2 separate regions of the Homo sapiens genome follow, and region 2 is linked to region 1. Evidence: fine-mapped expression QTL. Tissue or cell type: whole blood. Region 1 holds a variant in brackets; the other region holds the start of a gene. All regions are shown on one strand. Distances are between the middles of the regions.

Region 1 (8,100 bases):
TCCCAGAAGAAACTTCAAGTCATTGTGTTTCTGCCAGGACTCTGCTCTTTCCCTCTGCCTTGAGAATAGCATGTCCCAAGTAGGGGCTGCCCCTTTAGTCTAGGAACCAGGATGATAAGACACATGGAGCAGAGCCACAGAAGCTCACATGTAACCACAACGGTCCCACGTAATGTTAGAGAAACAAATGCTCTTGTAACACTGAGATTCTTGGTGGTATTATTGCATTAAAGTTGACTAATGTACCTCCCACCAACCGTAAGAGATAGGAATTGTTATTATCCTGTGATATTGTGAAATACATAGTTGATCTTCTCCCCGTTTCCTGACATACAACTTCTAAAATCCTTAGAATCTCCAAAGTGATGTCTTTTTATATGCTGATGAGTTGACTGATGCCTGGCAGCCCCTGGGTAGCTTCAGGATGGGGCTGGTCACTGGAAAGACCACAGCAGGATTAGAAGGATGGCAATTTCAGCTCCACCCCATCAACATCTGGGGAGGAGGGCAACTGAAGGTGAAGTGGATCACCAATGGCTGATGGATTAATCAATCATGCCTGTGTTACAAAGTCTCCATAAAAGCTCCCAAAGGACTGGGTTCAGAGAGCTTCTGGATACCTGAACACATGGATGTTACTGGAGGGTGCCACCTGGGGTCGGGGGGTGCAAAGGGGAAGGAGTATGGAAGCTCCGCACCCTTTCCTTCATACCTCACTATATGCATTTCTTTTTCTATATCCTTTGGAATATCATTTGTAATAAACCAGGAAATGTGTTTCGCTGAGTTCTGTGAACCGCTCTTGCAAATTAACCCAAGGAGGGGGTCACGAGAATCCCAACTTGAAGTGGGTAGTTCACAAGTTCCAGAGGCCAGGGCTTGTAACTAATGGGAAGGGTGGAGACCATCTTATGGGACTGAGCCCTCAACCTATGGGAGGTGATGCCATCTCCAAGTAGATAGTGTCAAAACTGAATTAGAGGACACCCAGCTGGTGTCCCTGCAGAAATGATTGCTTGGTTGGTGTGTGGGGAGAATCCCTCACCCCGTTTGGTCACAGAAGTCTTTTGTGATTATTGCTGCTGAGTGAGAGAATAGTAGAAAGCACTTTGTTTTCTTCCACACAGAATCCCCATTTCACAGATGAGAAAACTGAGGCAAGAAACTCGCCCAAGGTCATGCACATTTGTAAGTGGCAAAGCCAGACTTTGAAATCAGAAAGCCTGGCTCCAGAGCCTATTAACCTCTCTATAACAGTCTATCTCCCAAATGGGATTCTAGGCAATTTTTATGCAAATTAAATTATTGAAAATGGTCACGCATGATATTTACAAAACACAAGGGAGAAAGGGAACAAGGGTGTGGGAGGCAGGGGGTGGACACAGTCTGGGCATCTTTCTGCACATATTTCTGGGGATTCTGGCCCAAGAGAGGCCAGATCCCTTAGTGGCTGGGACATCTCTGGGAAACTACCCAGCAGGGACCAGTGTGTCCCTGAGCCCAGTGGTATTTGAAGGGTTCATTCCAGGAAAAAGAGTCTTCTGGGGTGAGAAAAATCCTGGCAAGACAGTTTCATTTTCCTATGTCTTTGTCCCCTGCACACCACTGGCTTGCGCACACACACACAGACACACACACACACACACACACACACACACACACACGCTGTCTCAGCAGGGAGCACTGCTGCCTTGGGTCTGTGTTTGGCAACATGGATCCCCAGCCCAAGTGCCAGAAAGGCAGTTATAGGTGTGGCTCATGTGCGGTAACAACAGTGGTCCGTCTCCCACCAAGAACTCTCAGCCCAGGGATCCTGAACAATGGTTCTTTCCACCAAGCCTGAGACTTGGCTTTCTGTTTCCTTTGGACTCTCTGGGAAAGAAAACCCTGGGAGTTCCCATTCCTAGGTCTGAGAAAACATCTCTGTTAAAAGTTGACCAGGAGGGCACAGGGCCCTACCCTGCACAACGTGAGTCTCAGGCAGGGCACGTGAGCAGCTAGCCTGATCCCAAACAATCGCAGCTCTCAGGGCCTAAATATAGCCCATGCATCTGGCTGTTTTTATACTCAGTTGCTTGGCTCTGATCGACCAAGCTTCCTGTCTGATCACCACTGAGGAACTGAGGGCAGGGGGATGCTGCCCACCACTGCACCTGGCAAGGATATCCCGCTGCCCCTCCGCAGCTGCAAGGCACCTGCGTCCTACACACCCGGGACACATTTTGCAGGGCTGGTTCCTCCACAAATCATCTGGTCAGACTGGATAAGCTTTGGGCCTTGTTTCCATGGGACTAAGGGGCCAGATGTATCCTGGGTGAACCCTGGCTCTATTTTGCCAGTGGGAAGGTCTTTATTCCATTTTCTGGTAAACATTCCAATCCGGTAGCATATGGTTATCACCAAAGAAAAACAAGATGTTTTTGATCCCTTCTGGTAATTTGTTCTGGGCAAACAAACTTGTTTTTCCTGAGTCCAGTCCTTTTGCAATCATGCTGATTTCATCCTGTGCTGTTTATTATTCTCTCTGGTTCTTGAGGCCTGGCCTGGCAAGACAGTCCTATTTTAGGAGACAACACTCTCCCATAGCAATCTTTGCTTTATCTTCGGATACGTTTATTACCTGAGACACTAGGTAGCCAATGGGGCATATGAGAAATACCCTAAGCTCTATGTAGAAAGAAAGCGGGAGCTCCCCACAGGAACCAGTAGGAAACCACAGAGACCAGCCTCTAACGTTTGAAATTATGGGGTTGAGGTGAGCTGAATTTGCAGCTTTTCAGATTGCCTCTGAACAGCAAATATGATGTTGATTTAGAAAAAAAGGTGTGAACTCCTCAGCTGATTGCAGAAGTGTACCTTTTCCCTTTTTCTGAGCCACTTGCTAGTGATTTTTCTGACCCATAACGTTCAGAAATTAGATTGATAACACCTACTTTAAAAGTGAACTTATCCGAAAAGGCCTTAAATAATATTGTAATAACTTTCAAAAGCAAACCAACCAACCAAACAGGCTGGTACTTAGGGAGGGTCTCCTGCTCCACTGGCTTCCTGTGTGCCAGGACCTGGCCTGCTCCTAGCTGGCAGGTGCATCTTGGCCTGTGACGCCACATGCACTTCTTAGCCAACTCTGCCTTGGCCTCCACCTCACTCCCAGGAGCTTTGCCGGTTCGTTGCTCAGCTGATCTCTTGACCCTTCCAGTGTCTGGCCTTCTTCTCCTGATGAGAAGACCCCTAGACACAGGACAGACTGGCTCCATCTTTGTGCCTCCAGGGCTGAGCACAGGCCTGGCACAAGGCAGTCACTCAGTTACAGCTGAACAATGGGACAGGAGCTGTCCTCCACCTGAGATTGTAAATAATAGCTTGGGAGTACAATTACCTGGGAGCTCCTGTTTGATTTGTTTTGTACCCTCTCCTAGGCCCTGCTTCCATCCCACCTGAGCCCCTGGCCTGGAAGATTCTTGGGGCCCTCCTGATGCTAAGATTCTGTGACTCGGGGTGACTCTATTGCTCATCATCCAGGTCACCTCTAGGCTCCCACCAGTGACGCCTGCGTGTTCCATGGCAGCCTCTCCTCAGGCTCCACCCTAGTCCCCAGGGCATGCACAGAAATGAAGGAGTCATGTCGGCTCCTAGAGCAGCGAGTTGTGGCTCTTCTGCCAAACATGGCCACACATCCTTTAGGATAAGAGTTTCAGAAGTTAGAGCCGGGGGTCAGGGTGGATGCACAGAAAGCAAAAAAAAAAAAAAAA[G/AG]CTTGGTTCTCACTTCTTCAGTTCAATACAGCACACCTTTATTGAGCACCTAAGGATCTATGCTGCCAGAGGAGGGCAGAGTCGACAAAACAGTGGGCAGGCCTCCCCTGCAGCTCTCTGTGTCTGTGATGATGGAGCTGGGTTGGGGAAATCCTGCTGTGACATTTGCCCTGACGCAGTTCCGCACAGCATGGTGGCTTCCAAGCTATGCTCTTGATGGGCACCCGTAAGGAGCTTCTACATGCATTAGAGATGGAGCCTCTCCTATCTTTGCAAGCCTTTGTGGTTCTTCCCTTTAAATCTGCCATCCACGGACCTCAACAGGAGAATAATTTGGTCTTCAGTTTGCTCTGTTTTAGACAAATACTTCACATGACTGATGTAAACTGTTGCATAGTTTCGCAAAGGCTTTCTCATTCATTCCTGAAATTCTCCATCAGTCACAAACACAAATTGTTCAGTATCTGGGGAATTCAAAGCCCTTTCCTCAAAACAGACATTTCTCCTTATCATTCTTCCTTCAGGGGAAGTATTGAAAGTCATTGAAAGTCATCCCCACCCACTAGAGGAGAGAAACGCAAGCCCAGAAAAGGCAAGAGGTACACAGGCATCCACGGGACAGTGGTGATGGGGCTGAGCACTGCCTTCCAGAGCTGCTGCTGGGCATTGAGCGGGCAGCACCCTCTCAATGCCATGTGGACCCTCCTCAATGTGATTGAATGACCGTGTTTCTTGCAGCAAGCTCCTTGTAAGAATCGCTTTAGGTCTCTCTGATGAAGTAAAGATTGATTTCTGCAGAGAAAGTGAGATACTTGTGGCCTTATTCCTGGTCTCACCTCTGTGTTGGGGCTGAGCTGTGCGAGGCTCACAGGGTGATATTGGAGGCTTAGAAGCCGGGGACACTGTGGCAAGGTGATGGCTGAAAGCAGGCTAGATCTCATACCTGCTGGCAGGCCCTGCTTTTCCCAGCAGCATTCCTGTGGGGCAGCGTGATATGAGGGCAGACAAGAATCTCATATGAAGGAAGAGGACAGGGGCTTGTGGACCCACAGGGGCTCTGGGACAGGCAATGTGCAAGCAGATGAAGCCTAAGCCGCAGGGGCTGGGCCAGCACTGCTCTCCAGTGCAGGAGAGGCATGGTGTGGACAGGGCTGGCCACACAGATCTGACCCAGCAAGTTCCTGGCCCCTCAGGCCTGGGTCGGCTTCCTGTGGGTGCTCATCTTGGAGCCAAGAGCTGGCTGTGGGAATCATGGTGCTCAGGCTTCAGAGAGGTAGACACACAGGCACTCGATTCGTCAGGCGGTGGCCATCAGTCAATGTGACCGGCCGGGGCCAGCAACCAGGGCTCAGTGTACACCTGCCACTGCTGGGGACTTTGGAAGAGGCAGGTGTTGGCCAGTTACTTGGCCTCCACCAGCTGCTCCAGGCGCTGCAGCATCGTCAGACGCAGGGCTTGGAACCTGGAGGGAGACATCGCCAAGAGGACTCACTGAGGCCAGACAGGGCAGGGAGGTGGGCAGCAGAGCAAGGGACCTGCAGATGGCCAGCTCAGGAGATCCCTGCAGCAGCCTCATCTCTCCTCTGCCAAGGAGGGGGAAGGCTGTGGCCTGCGCCTCATGAGGTGCAGTCAAACCAGGCTGTGGACTGCACAGAGCATCAGAGCAGAGTGTTGTCATTTCTATTGCAGACTCTAATACAGACAACAGCACACTGGAGTGGACAGGGCGGTAGAGCAGAGATCGGGAAGCCCATGTTTCAGCCCAGATTCTGCCATAACCTATGCGGCAACCTTCCTTGTGCTGGGCCTCAGCGTCCACTCTGTACGTTGAGTGGACCCACTAGTTGCCCCCCAGATCCCTTTCAGCTCTCAAATCTTACGGGGTCAGGACTGACTGCAGAATGGAAGATTCCCTCTGACTTTGGTCTCCTCTGCCTGTTTGGGGTCTGGCTGCACAGACAGGAGCCTGTGGAGGATGTGGCTTTCCACGGGTCATTCAACCAGAGGCTAACATCCATCCTTTCCCCACACACCCCAGGCCCTCTCAGTGAGCTCCTGCCCTTTCCTTCCTAGCTGCCTCCCCACCAGCCCTGGTGGGGTGCCCTCCACAAGTCCTGGACCACACTTCACTTTGCTGAGGGGGAGACGTCATTGGGACTACAGCCTGGCTAACTCATGCATCCGGACCCTGGCGTGGTGTCCCCAGGAGCTGGCAGGTGAGACCTGCTCACCTTTTCATTGAACTAGCCCTCTGCACCTGAAAACATCGGCTGAGGCTGGGAGTTCCAGCATCTGCCACTTTGGGGAAGGCTCAGAATTCCCACTAGGACAAAAGGCCCTAATCAGGCCAAGTCTGCCTCAGCATGCCTGCTCCTTGGAGCCACATCACCAGCAGAACTCAGAAGCTTGACCCAGCGCCCACTTGGGTTCCTGCCTGACTTTCCTGCCAGGTGTTCTGCAGCTCATGCCTGCGCTGGTGAGGATGCCAAGACTGGATGGGTGATCGGGGCTGTGTCCCACTGTTTTGGCAAGCTGTCACCCCAGCGTGGTGGCAATACCGAGCAGGGGGCCAGAGGGTGATGCTGGGGAGCTAGGGTTAGCAGGCCTTCCCGTACCAGGGTACTGGTGCCCATGGAGGAGAGAGACCTCCCAGCCGGCACTGGTGCTGTGCTTTGCAGACCTGCCCTGATGTTCAGGACCCATGACTGTCTGTTTAAGTGCTGCTTACTTCATGGTCAGTTTGATTATTTCTCTTTCTTCCTCTTCTTTTAATTTTTCAACAAAACTGTCCAGCACCGGCATTTCAAACTTAATGTACTGAGCGACCTAGAAAATCCAAGAACATTTTAATGTGCTTTAAATTCGAAGCCAAAAGTATGTTTTCTTTTCCTCAAGGCTTCCATAGTGGCCCATCCAGCCAACATCTTGTATCCACAGAAGGAGCTGCCGCTTTTCCCACCCCACCCCCACACTGCTGTGTTGTGTACAGATGCCAGGACGGGAGCCTATTACTATCTCAAAGGCAACTGTTATCCCTGGGAGGAAATATTAAACTGAATATTAGGAAGAGCATTCAGTACAGCAGCATTGTCACATTGGGTGCCCTCTGGGCTAGGGGGTAGGGAGGTGGGAGCACCATTGTTTCTAACAATGGAATGCAATTGCAGCAGCCTGAGGGATACGGGGTCACTAGGCCTCCTACTTGAGGTTCAAACCCTGTAAGCATCTTCTATGCAGAGGAGTTTGGAAATGCACTCACTGTCTGGTCAGAACTCAGGCTGTTGGTAAGACTTAAATATCTCCCTGTTTTCCACAGGTGCGAGGTAGGGCCTAGTTAAAAAGCCTTTGCATAGGTCTCTCACATAATGACAACAAAATACATTCCAATGAAGGAAAAGACTTTACTTCCCTAGAGGAAAAGGACAGGCCATGGTTTTATAGGACCCAAATTCTTCTTTCCCCTAAGCTGCTGGTGCTGGCGGTCACTGATGGGAGAGGGAGGGCTGGCGCCTCCCTGTGCTAGGCTGGGAGCCCTTTGGGAGAGTGTGGAGCTCCTGGAGACATCAACTGACAGGGCTCTGGCCAGGAGTCCTTGGGAGGCCCCGTCACCCAAGAACCCCTCACCCTAGAGCAGGCCTCCCCAGCCTTGGCCCCCACTCACTTCATGGGGGACTTCCACGCCCAAGTCAGCTTCCATCAGGAAGATCCTGGCGATCTTCTCACATGGCCCATGCAGGATTCTGGAAATCAGCGGGTACTCGCAGTCTTTTAATTTTGTCCGCTCTGAAAAAGAAGGTGGTTTACAAAAATCACGGGAGATTAGGATCACCTCTGTCTGTTCCAGATTAGGAACTGATAGAAAATGTGCGTCTAGGGGCGCAGGGAACCCTAAGAACACAGACCTCGCTAACAGCGCTGCCCTGAGAGATTCCTGCTCATGCAGAAGGGAGGCAGAACAGGGCCCCCAGATCTGCCACTTTGGCATAAGGATTAAGTGGAGCGGCTGGCAATTGAGAAGAAGAAGATACAAGTGAGGCTCTTTGCCCTCCCCTATTTGCCAAAAAGCAGGACATAAATTTGTCAAGGTGTGCCCCCGTCCCTCTCTAGGCAATGATGGAGTTAATCACCAGAGACAACCCGAGCCCCTCCTCAGCCTGGAGAGGGCACCAGAGGAACCTGCACAGCACGTCCCGCTGAAGCCCTTCCCTTCCCGCAGCTCCCCGTGCGGTGACCTTCCCACCCTTCGCCTCCCCAGAAACTCAGGCCCTTCTCCTCTGTCTTGTCACTTCTCTAAAAACTTACTGCTCTTTTGTGAATATGCTATTTAAGCCCAAATTCTGACCATTCA
Region 2 (8,100 bases), 35 kb after region 1:
TGATTTTTATTTTCTTATTTCAGCGTGATTTAAATCAAATAGGTCATAACGAAAGTGACCTGGGAAGCAAAAGAAAGGAGGACAAGTGTGTGGGGCACAGCTGGGAGCCTGAGCTGCTCCCGCTGGTGGAGGACAGCAAGTGCAGGCCACAGAGCAGGTGCAGGCCACGCTGACGGCATTCCTGGGGGGACTAAGTTCCTGACTGCAGTCTGTGGCTACCACATTCGAATTGCCAGCCACAACGGCAGCAGGGCACAGAGGACAATGAAGCTTTAAAAGGCCCCTCCCAGCACCTGTTCGCCAGCAAATGGCAGGAGCCTGGCCAGTGAAGAAGTTGCAGCGTCTGCCGAAACCAGGTGCCTCTGAGGGGGTACCCTCAGCCAAGCATTTTTGTGGTGAGAGCCGGCTGTCTGGTTGTAGATGGCAGGCGGCGACTCAGCAGCTGCTGCTCCCACCTCCTTCCACACTGCTGTCCCCTCCTGCTGCCCAGTTCCAATCACCAGACCCCTCCTCTCCACTCCCGCCATCATCCCTCTGGCTCAACTCACTCCTCCCTGCCCCAGAAGACTCTGCACTGTCCAGGTGGAGGTGATGGAGACCAGGGGAGTCCAGGAGAGGCGGGCACAGAGCTCCCCTCCACCTCCACTCCCGCCTTGCCCTGGACTGACCACACAGGCCCAGCTCACCTTTACTCCCCGCTGCGGTTCTGGCCTCTCACTGACAGGTCTCTCTGAGTCCAGTCCAGCATCCAGGCCTCCCTGATACAGCTCCCCTTCCTCTGAGAGCCTGGCCCTGAGCAGCCATGTAGATCGCAGACCAGCCTTCCCAGTGGGCAAGACTTCTGGCTTCTGCCCTTGTTTCAAGGCAAAGCAATTTGGGACAAGAAAACCATTTCCAGTCCTCCTGCTCCCCCCTTACACCTTAAACATACATTCTCTGCTCCTGGAACCCCCTGAACCACTCCTCAACTTCCCCACCAACCAGGCTCACCTCTAGCCTATGGAAGAGAAGATCCACAGAAACAAAGATCTTCTTAGCTATGGTTTTCGGGCCAAACGTGCTCAAAATGGGCACTGTCCAATATCCCGATTGCCTGGGGCTGGGAGTGCAATGCAGAGGGGCAGACCCCTCTGGGTGCCTGCTGCTGCAGGGCTGCTCTGGAGGCTCTCTACGGCTGCCCTCACCTGTGCTGTCCACTGCCCCAGGCCTGTGTGCCACATGTCACTGCTGGGGACATAAGGGCCCTGTGAGACAAAAGGGTCCCAGAATCTTTTGGGTCATAGAGTCCTTTGGAGTCTCTTGAAAGCTTAGTGCACTCTCCCCAGAAAATGCATGTATGTGCATGTTGTTGCAATCTGCATCCACGTGCAAACACACACACAATTTGCATATCACTGCAGGGAGATGAGACAGCTCTTGTCCATGTACTCCCAGATCCCCAGATCTTAGGTTTAGAATCTCTGCTGAAACCTGTCACAGCAAGAAAGAGGAGGCAGAGGAACGTTGTAGAGCCTTGCATGTGAGTTTTGCTGTGGCATTAACTTGGCCTGTGATCCTAGCGTGTTGCGCCGTCTCTTGGGCATCAGTTTAGCCAGAGCTGTTGTGGCAGCTGATAGAGAGTCTTCAGGGCTCTTCCCAGCACTGCAGCTATGGGGCTCAATGACACCCCACCCCTGCTTCCCAAGGTCAGGCAGGGCAAAGGGAGGGGGTTCCGGGCCTCTTCCTCAACAGTATATCCTAGGGCAGAAGGTGGGACAGCCAGAAAAGGAGACCCCGGGAACTACAAGTTTCTCTTTTACAAAAATAAGAAAACTGTTGAAGCTTTAGGAAGTGCAGCCACTTCTTATTTGATTTTCTTTATTTTAAAACAATTTCCCCAAACATACTCTGTGAGAGAATAACCACCTAGCCTTTGCAAGGCTCTGGGTTTAAAGCTCTGCTCTGTGACTGCCTGGCTCTGTTACCTTAAGCAAGTCCAGTTCCCTCTCTGAACCTTGGGCTCCTCATCAATTAAATAACTATAATCCTCGATGACTTCTGTGAAGACGAATGAGGAGACCTGTAAGATGGGCCTTGTGTTGGGCTCACCCATAATGAAAAGAGGCTCCCATTACTATTCTTATTGACACTGGGAGTTGGGGGCTCTGGAGAGACTGTGGAGCCCCAGAGATGGGAATGTGAGGCCTGCCTGCAGGAGTGGCCATGAATGAGGAGAGAGTCTGAGCTGACACCTGAAACCAGGCCCCAGACCCCAGGGGCCCAGGGCAGAGGGCTTTCTGGCAGATCCCCTAGTTAGGTCTCCCCTTTGAGGCTTTGCACGTCCAGAATCTGAACTCTGACACACACCCAAGTTTCGTTCATGTTCTTTGTTATCTGTCATGGTCCACTTGGTCCTGACCCAGGGCGACCCTGGACCTTGATTCTGTTCTCGACCTCCAGGCTACCCACTGGAGCTTCATGGTGGAAATACAACCCAATCTCCTGAGTTTCAGACAGACACTTTAATCTGTAGCATCAACCTTTTTGTTGTCAAATCACCAGCACTACACACTGAGAGAATTATGGCTAGAACTAATGACAACAGCCTTCACATACACTGACAAAGTGCTGAAACAGCCCATGACAATTTCCGGCCAGCATTTTTTTAACCTAAGTTTAATGAGTTTCATCTCTCCTCTTCCCTCCCTTCCTCTTTCTCCTCTGACCCTCTCCCTTCCTGTCTTCTCCCCTAACCTGCTGTCCTGGCAGAAGTAGCTAAGGAACCACACAGAGGAACAGAAGGCAGGATGGTCTACATTTACCTGTTACTTCACCAATTCACTTCTAACTTAAAAAAAAATGGTTTCTGGCAACAAATCCTGATTGACACCTTAGTACTGTGGGCAGTTAAACTACAGCAAAGCCAGCGAGGGGCTCCTCTGTGAGTGCAAAGCATAGCTTTGGAGTCTAACCTGCTTGGGTTCAAATTCCAGAAGCCCAGCCCTTATTTGCTGTGCGACCTTATTTAATTCCTATGTGAAATGGGGCTCCTGAAGCTGTCCTTACTGTGTTTTAAGAAAGTGCTGGCCCTGGCCTGGGCACTGATTCTGGTGTGAGAGGAGGCCTCCCTCCCTCCGCCGTGCCAGGTTAATGAAAACACTGAGGCATGTTTTGGAAGTGGGAAGTGCAGGATGGGACCGGAGTCAGGAGCCCAGAAGAGCAGGGCAGCAGGCAGGCTGACCTTCGGAGACTAAGGGTGAAGAGCAAGAGACTCAGGGGCACAACAAGCCCTGGGTTCAAATCCTGGCTCCATCACCAACTCATCCGGTAAAGGTGGACAATTTTATAACTCTTTAAGCCTCAGTTTTCACATCTGAAAAGGGGATAACGAAAGTAGGACTCTCACTTGCTGTGAGGAGTAAGAGGCATATCGTGTTAAAGCACTTGGCCCAGAGCAAGGCGAGCCCTCTACAGACAGCGATTGTGAGACAGACCCCCCCTGCTGCTATTATCTTGGCGTTCGATTTCCATCAGTGAAATCAGAGTTGTGCCAGAGGCCTCTAGGCTCTCTCCCCAACTCTAGGATCAGTGCTTCTAGGAAACTGGTTAAGGACAAGGTGAACAAAAAAGGTGTAGCCAGTGGCCGGGCTCATCTGTCTTGCTCAGGTTGTAGCCCCTAAATTGCTTAACAGAGGTGCCAGGCGCAGTGCCCCCTCTCAGCAATGAGCCCGAGGCCCGCAATGCGCCAGGCTGGCGGGGGAGGGACCCTGCGCGCTGCGGCCGAAGGGCACAAGTGCCCAGGCTTCAGCGTCCCTGCCTGGTGGCAGTCCTGGGTCGGAGGGGATGCTCCATGGACGCCCAAGCACTCTCCTGCTCGTTCATCACTCACCGTCCAGTCATCGCGCAGTCCAGAAGCCACTGCATGTGTCGTGTCCTCGCTTGCACCGGAGCTGCGCCCGCAGCGCCTGCTGACCCCAGGCTTCAGCTGCTCGGGGCCAGGCCCGCCCCTCGCCCCGCCCCTCGCCCCTCGCCCCGCCCCGCTCCCCGCCTCTCGCCCGGCACGGCCAAAGGTGCCGCCCCGGTCTCTCCGTCCCGCCCCGAGCACGCCCCTCACTCCGCACCGGCCAATGGCACCGCCCCGTCCGCCCCGCTCTGGGAACGCCGGTAGGTTCCGGGTGCAGGGCGGTGGCCTAGGGGCGGCGGGGAAGATTTGGGGCCTGCGACCTGCCAGGTGTCCCCAGGCCATTGTTCAGCTCGCCGCGCGCTCCCGAGTTCCCGAGGGCGCCCCGGGACGCGAGGAGAAAGCAGCCCGACTCAGCCCCGAGAGGTTCGGTGTGCGGGCAGCGGCCAGGGACTTTGCGGGGTAGCGCGGACTCCTGGACTTCCAACAAGGGCCGCTGCGCAGGCGCTGCAATCACTGCAGGCACTTGTCTGCATGCCTGGTGGGGCTTGGAGTCTGGGGAGGCTTATCAGTAAAGCCCAGAGCATTTGCTATTTATTGCTCAAGGGGCACCTTTGTACAGTCTGGCCGTTTGCTTGGCATGGCCTCTTAGAACTCCTTATTGTTTAAGAAATCCGATCTGGTGAATAAGAAGTTAGTCTTTCTCTCCCAGTCACTGCCTCCTGGACGAATATTTGCCAGCACGGAGGCAGAGAGGACAGAAAACCACAAGCCATTTGGGGAACTGGGAACAGTTCAGTGTTTCTGGGGTGTGGGGGTGTCAAGGTGGGGGATGGGGTTGATGGAAAACATTTGCAATTTCTGCTTTACCTCACGATTCCCAGCTCTGACCTCTGGACCTGTTCTCTCCCACCCCTAACATAAATCATTTTAGTTTCATTCAGTGTGCGTTTCCTAATATTTTTAGGGTCTCATGGCCATTTTAGAATCTGATATGGATCTTCTAGAAAGTGCAGGTGGCCATATGCACCAAAATCAGCCTGGGATTTGAGTCTCATGGGTCCCTGAACTTCGACTTAGAGGGGCTGTGCTAATGCTTGTATGGCTGCTGTATGACTTATGTTGGAACCCCCACCTGCAAAAAGTGACAGGACTGAAGATACCCAGTCCAGGGGCCCTCCCGTTTCTGCGTTTGCTTGAATTTTTGGAGAATGGCCCATCCTTTGACAGCTCTGAGGCTCCCTGTGGTTGGTGACTTGTCATGACACATTTGCTCTTCCACAGCCCTCATCAAAGCTGAGACAAATAATCGGGTGCTTCCAAAGGTTTTTTAAAAGTGGGTAAAATTCAATATAACTGTCAACCTCTGAGCATGAGATCCTAAGAATTTAATCACTCCTGATAGGAGAAGTAAACATAGCACCAGGGTGACATAACAGTTTCCCTGGGCTCTCCAGAACTCGAGTGTGAATCATTCTCTCTGACCTAATTAATGCTGTTCACAGGGCCATGACTGGCTCTGAGTGAGGACTGGGTTTGGGACAGCAACCCCATGTGTCCTGTGCACCCATTGTGGGCTCAGACACTATGCTAGTGCTTTACATTGGGGATCCCATGCAATTCCCCCAGCACTCCTGGGCAGTTGGTGTTACTGCTTGCATTTTTTAAAATTTCCATTTTTATTTTAAATTTAGGGGATACACGTGCGGGTTTGTTACAATTGTACATTGTGTGGTACTGAGGTTTGGGATTGATCCTGTCACCCAGATGGTGAGCATAGTACCCAATAGGAAGTTTTTCACCCCTCGCCCCGCTGTCTCCCTCCCACTTTTGAAGTCCCCAGTGTCTATTGTTTTTATCTTTATGTCTAGGTGAACCCGATATTTAGCTCTTTTGCTTGTAAGCGAGAACATGTGGTGTTTGCTTTTCTATTTCTGCATTAGTTCGCTTAGGATAATGGCATCCAGCCACATCCATCCTGCTGCAAAGGACACGATTTTATTCTCTTTTATGGCTGTGAGTGCTTGCATTTTACATCAGACACAGGTGTCCATTGTCAGCGTCCTCCCCTCAGAAGGGGAGGGTCCATTGTCAGACCCCTCAGAAGGAGGGGTCACCTTTTCTTTCAGGGTTCAGTAGAACTGGGTGTGGTCTCCAGCTCACTTATGGTGGAGGCTACAGATACTGTTGGTTGCCAGCCAATGTCCATTTCCTTCTTTGGAAAAAAGAAAGATAGGAAAGAAGGAAAAGGACAAAAAGGAAGGAAGGAAGGAAGAAAGGGAAAGAGGGAGGGAGGAAGGAAGGAAGGACGGAAGGAAGGAAGGAAAGAAGGAAAGGAGGGAAGGAAGGAAGGAAAGGAGGGAAGGAAGGAGGGAGGGAGGAAAGAGGGAATGGGGAAGAGAGGAAAGAGAGAGGGAGGGAGGGAAGGAAAGGAGAGAGAAATACCCACTTGTCTGTAGCAGCAACATGCCAGCCCCTAGTTATGGCTCATGCCCACTTGTATTTTTCATACTCTACTTACAACCCAATAGTGGGTCATGAAATTAATTTAGTTGATGATGTGACTAGTACTTCAAAAATGCAAGGGAAAATACCAGTGTACAGCACAAATAGTAAATATAAGTTGTGTTTTGTGGAACTTTTTGTTTGCATTGTTTATGTTTCAGTTATGTGTGCTTCTTACTGTGGGTTACAGTTAAAAAAAACAAAACAGCTGTCTAAGTCTTGACAATCCTTTTCATAGCTTTTTTTCAGTGAAGCTAGAAGTGGCCATACGACCTACTTCTGGACGCAGAGATGGGGGAAGGTGTCCTGGGGGAGGAGAGATCTGAGGGATGGTGAAGATAACTTTTGCTTTTCTGGTAGAAAGAACAGATGTCTCTCCTGCCTGCCTGTCTCAAATGAGGACATGATGTGTAATGTCTGGAGCACTGGCAGCCATGTTGAGATCATAAAGCAACATGTCCGCATGCTGAGGCTGGCAGAGCATAAAGATCAAAGGTGTCTGGATCCTTCTTAACATCATGGAGCTTCTGCACCAACCCTGCACTGCCTACTCCAGACTCCCTACCATGGAGAAAAATTAGCCCCTATTTCTTCAAGGCAGAGGTTGGTAAACCTTTTCTGTACAGGGCTGGATAGTAAATATTTTAGGCTTTGTGGGCTAAATGGTCCGTGTCACAACTACTCACCACTACTGGGGTAGTTTGAAAGTAGCCATAGACAATATGTAAACCAAAGGACATGGTTGTGGTTCTCATAAAACTATTTTAAAAAATGGATGGCAGGGCTATAGTGTGCCAACCCCTTCCCTAGATGATCTTGTCCCCTAATTGTCTCTCTGACCTCATCTCCTCCTACTGCCTCTCCTTCTCCCTGCTCTGATCACACTGTTTCTCCCACACACCCAGCCTGTTCCTGTCAGGGTCATTCCTTCCCTTGGAGGGCTCTTTCCCCAGATGTCCACAGCGCTCCCTCCTTCCCCTGCTTCAGGTCTTTAATCACAAATCACCTCCTTTTTCAGGTCGTCCCTGGGCCCTCTGTAAAATGCCCGTCCCTGACCCACGCATACCACTCTGGCATGCTGTATATTCCAGTCTTTATCATGAGCTCCTAGAGGAAGAGACACTATGTTTCCTTAAAAACTGATTCTGTCTGGATTGTCACAGTGTTTAATCAATATCTGATGTATGATTGATTTTTTTTTTTTCTTTTTGCCAGATTCAGGTAAGAAAACAAACTCAGGGAGGCTGAGTTCCCCCTCCAAATGACATGTGCAGATAGTGGCAGAGTCCAGGTTTGTGCCTGATGGCCCAATGTGGTGGTGTCTGTACCACCCGGGAGTGAGGGAAAAACAACATCTACCTCTAATGGAACACACTGGGTCTCAGGGGAGCCAAGGCCACACAGAAGTTCCTGCAAGACTCCTTGCTCCAGGGCGCCGCCCCAGTAAAGGAGGCCTTTGGGAGTCCATTAAGTGAGCAGGGTGTCCTGTTCGTCTTGGGCAATTGCATTCTTTTTGGCCTTCCTACCTCAGAAAGACTTAGGAAATGCTGTTATTCTGCAAACAGTTTGGACTGACTTGTAAGATCCGTAAAAAGACAAATGGAAACACTCATGAGCCAGTGTTTTTATGAAAGAGCCGCAAAGGATAAATTTATGTTTAATTCGCAAGTAGGGAAGCTCATAAGAGCCTAAGAGCTTGATAAAGGCTACTGGGC

Evidence for each region. PIP is the estimated chance that this variant, and not a neighbour inherited with it, causes the effect.
Region 2: it holds the start of RASSF4, and the variant in region 1 is fine-mapped to the expression of RASSF4 in whole blood (INTERVAL, PIP 0.98).

Annotation. Positions count from the first base shown.
Region 1 is chr10:44,990,383-44,998,482 of GRCh38, reverse strand. It overlaps RASSF4 (Ras association domain family member 4), which reads right to left. Exons shown (of 11, transcript NM_032023.4): 9 at 7,414-7,535; 10 at 6,481-6,578; 11 at 2,592-5,214. The coding sequence ends at 5,154. LOC124902530 reads right to left here and starts at 4,447. Exons shown (of 3, transcript XM_047426129.1): 1 at 4,312-4,447; 2 at 3,542-3,678. The coding sequence starts at 4,447. ZNF22-AS1 (ZNF22 antisense RNA 1) reads left to right here. Exons shown (of 4, transcript NR_126421.2): 4 at 4,277-4,551. RefSeq lists enhancers at 5,759-6,258, 6,259-6,760, 6,790-7,481. The variant G/AG (reference allele first, on the strand shown) is at 3,753.
Region 2 is chr10:44,955,635-44,963,734 of GRCh38, reverse strand. It overlaps RASSF4 (Ras association domain family member 4), which reads right to left and starts at 3,933. Exons shown (of 11, transcript NM_032023.4): 1 at 3,869-3,933. It overlaps TMEM72-AS1 (TMEM72 antisense RNA 1), which reads left to right and starts at 4,046. Exons shown (of 8, transcript NR_033842.1): 1 at 4,046-4,143. RefSeq lists a silencer at 3,963-4,182 and an enhancer at 3,960-4,254.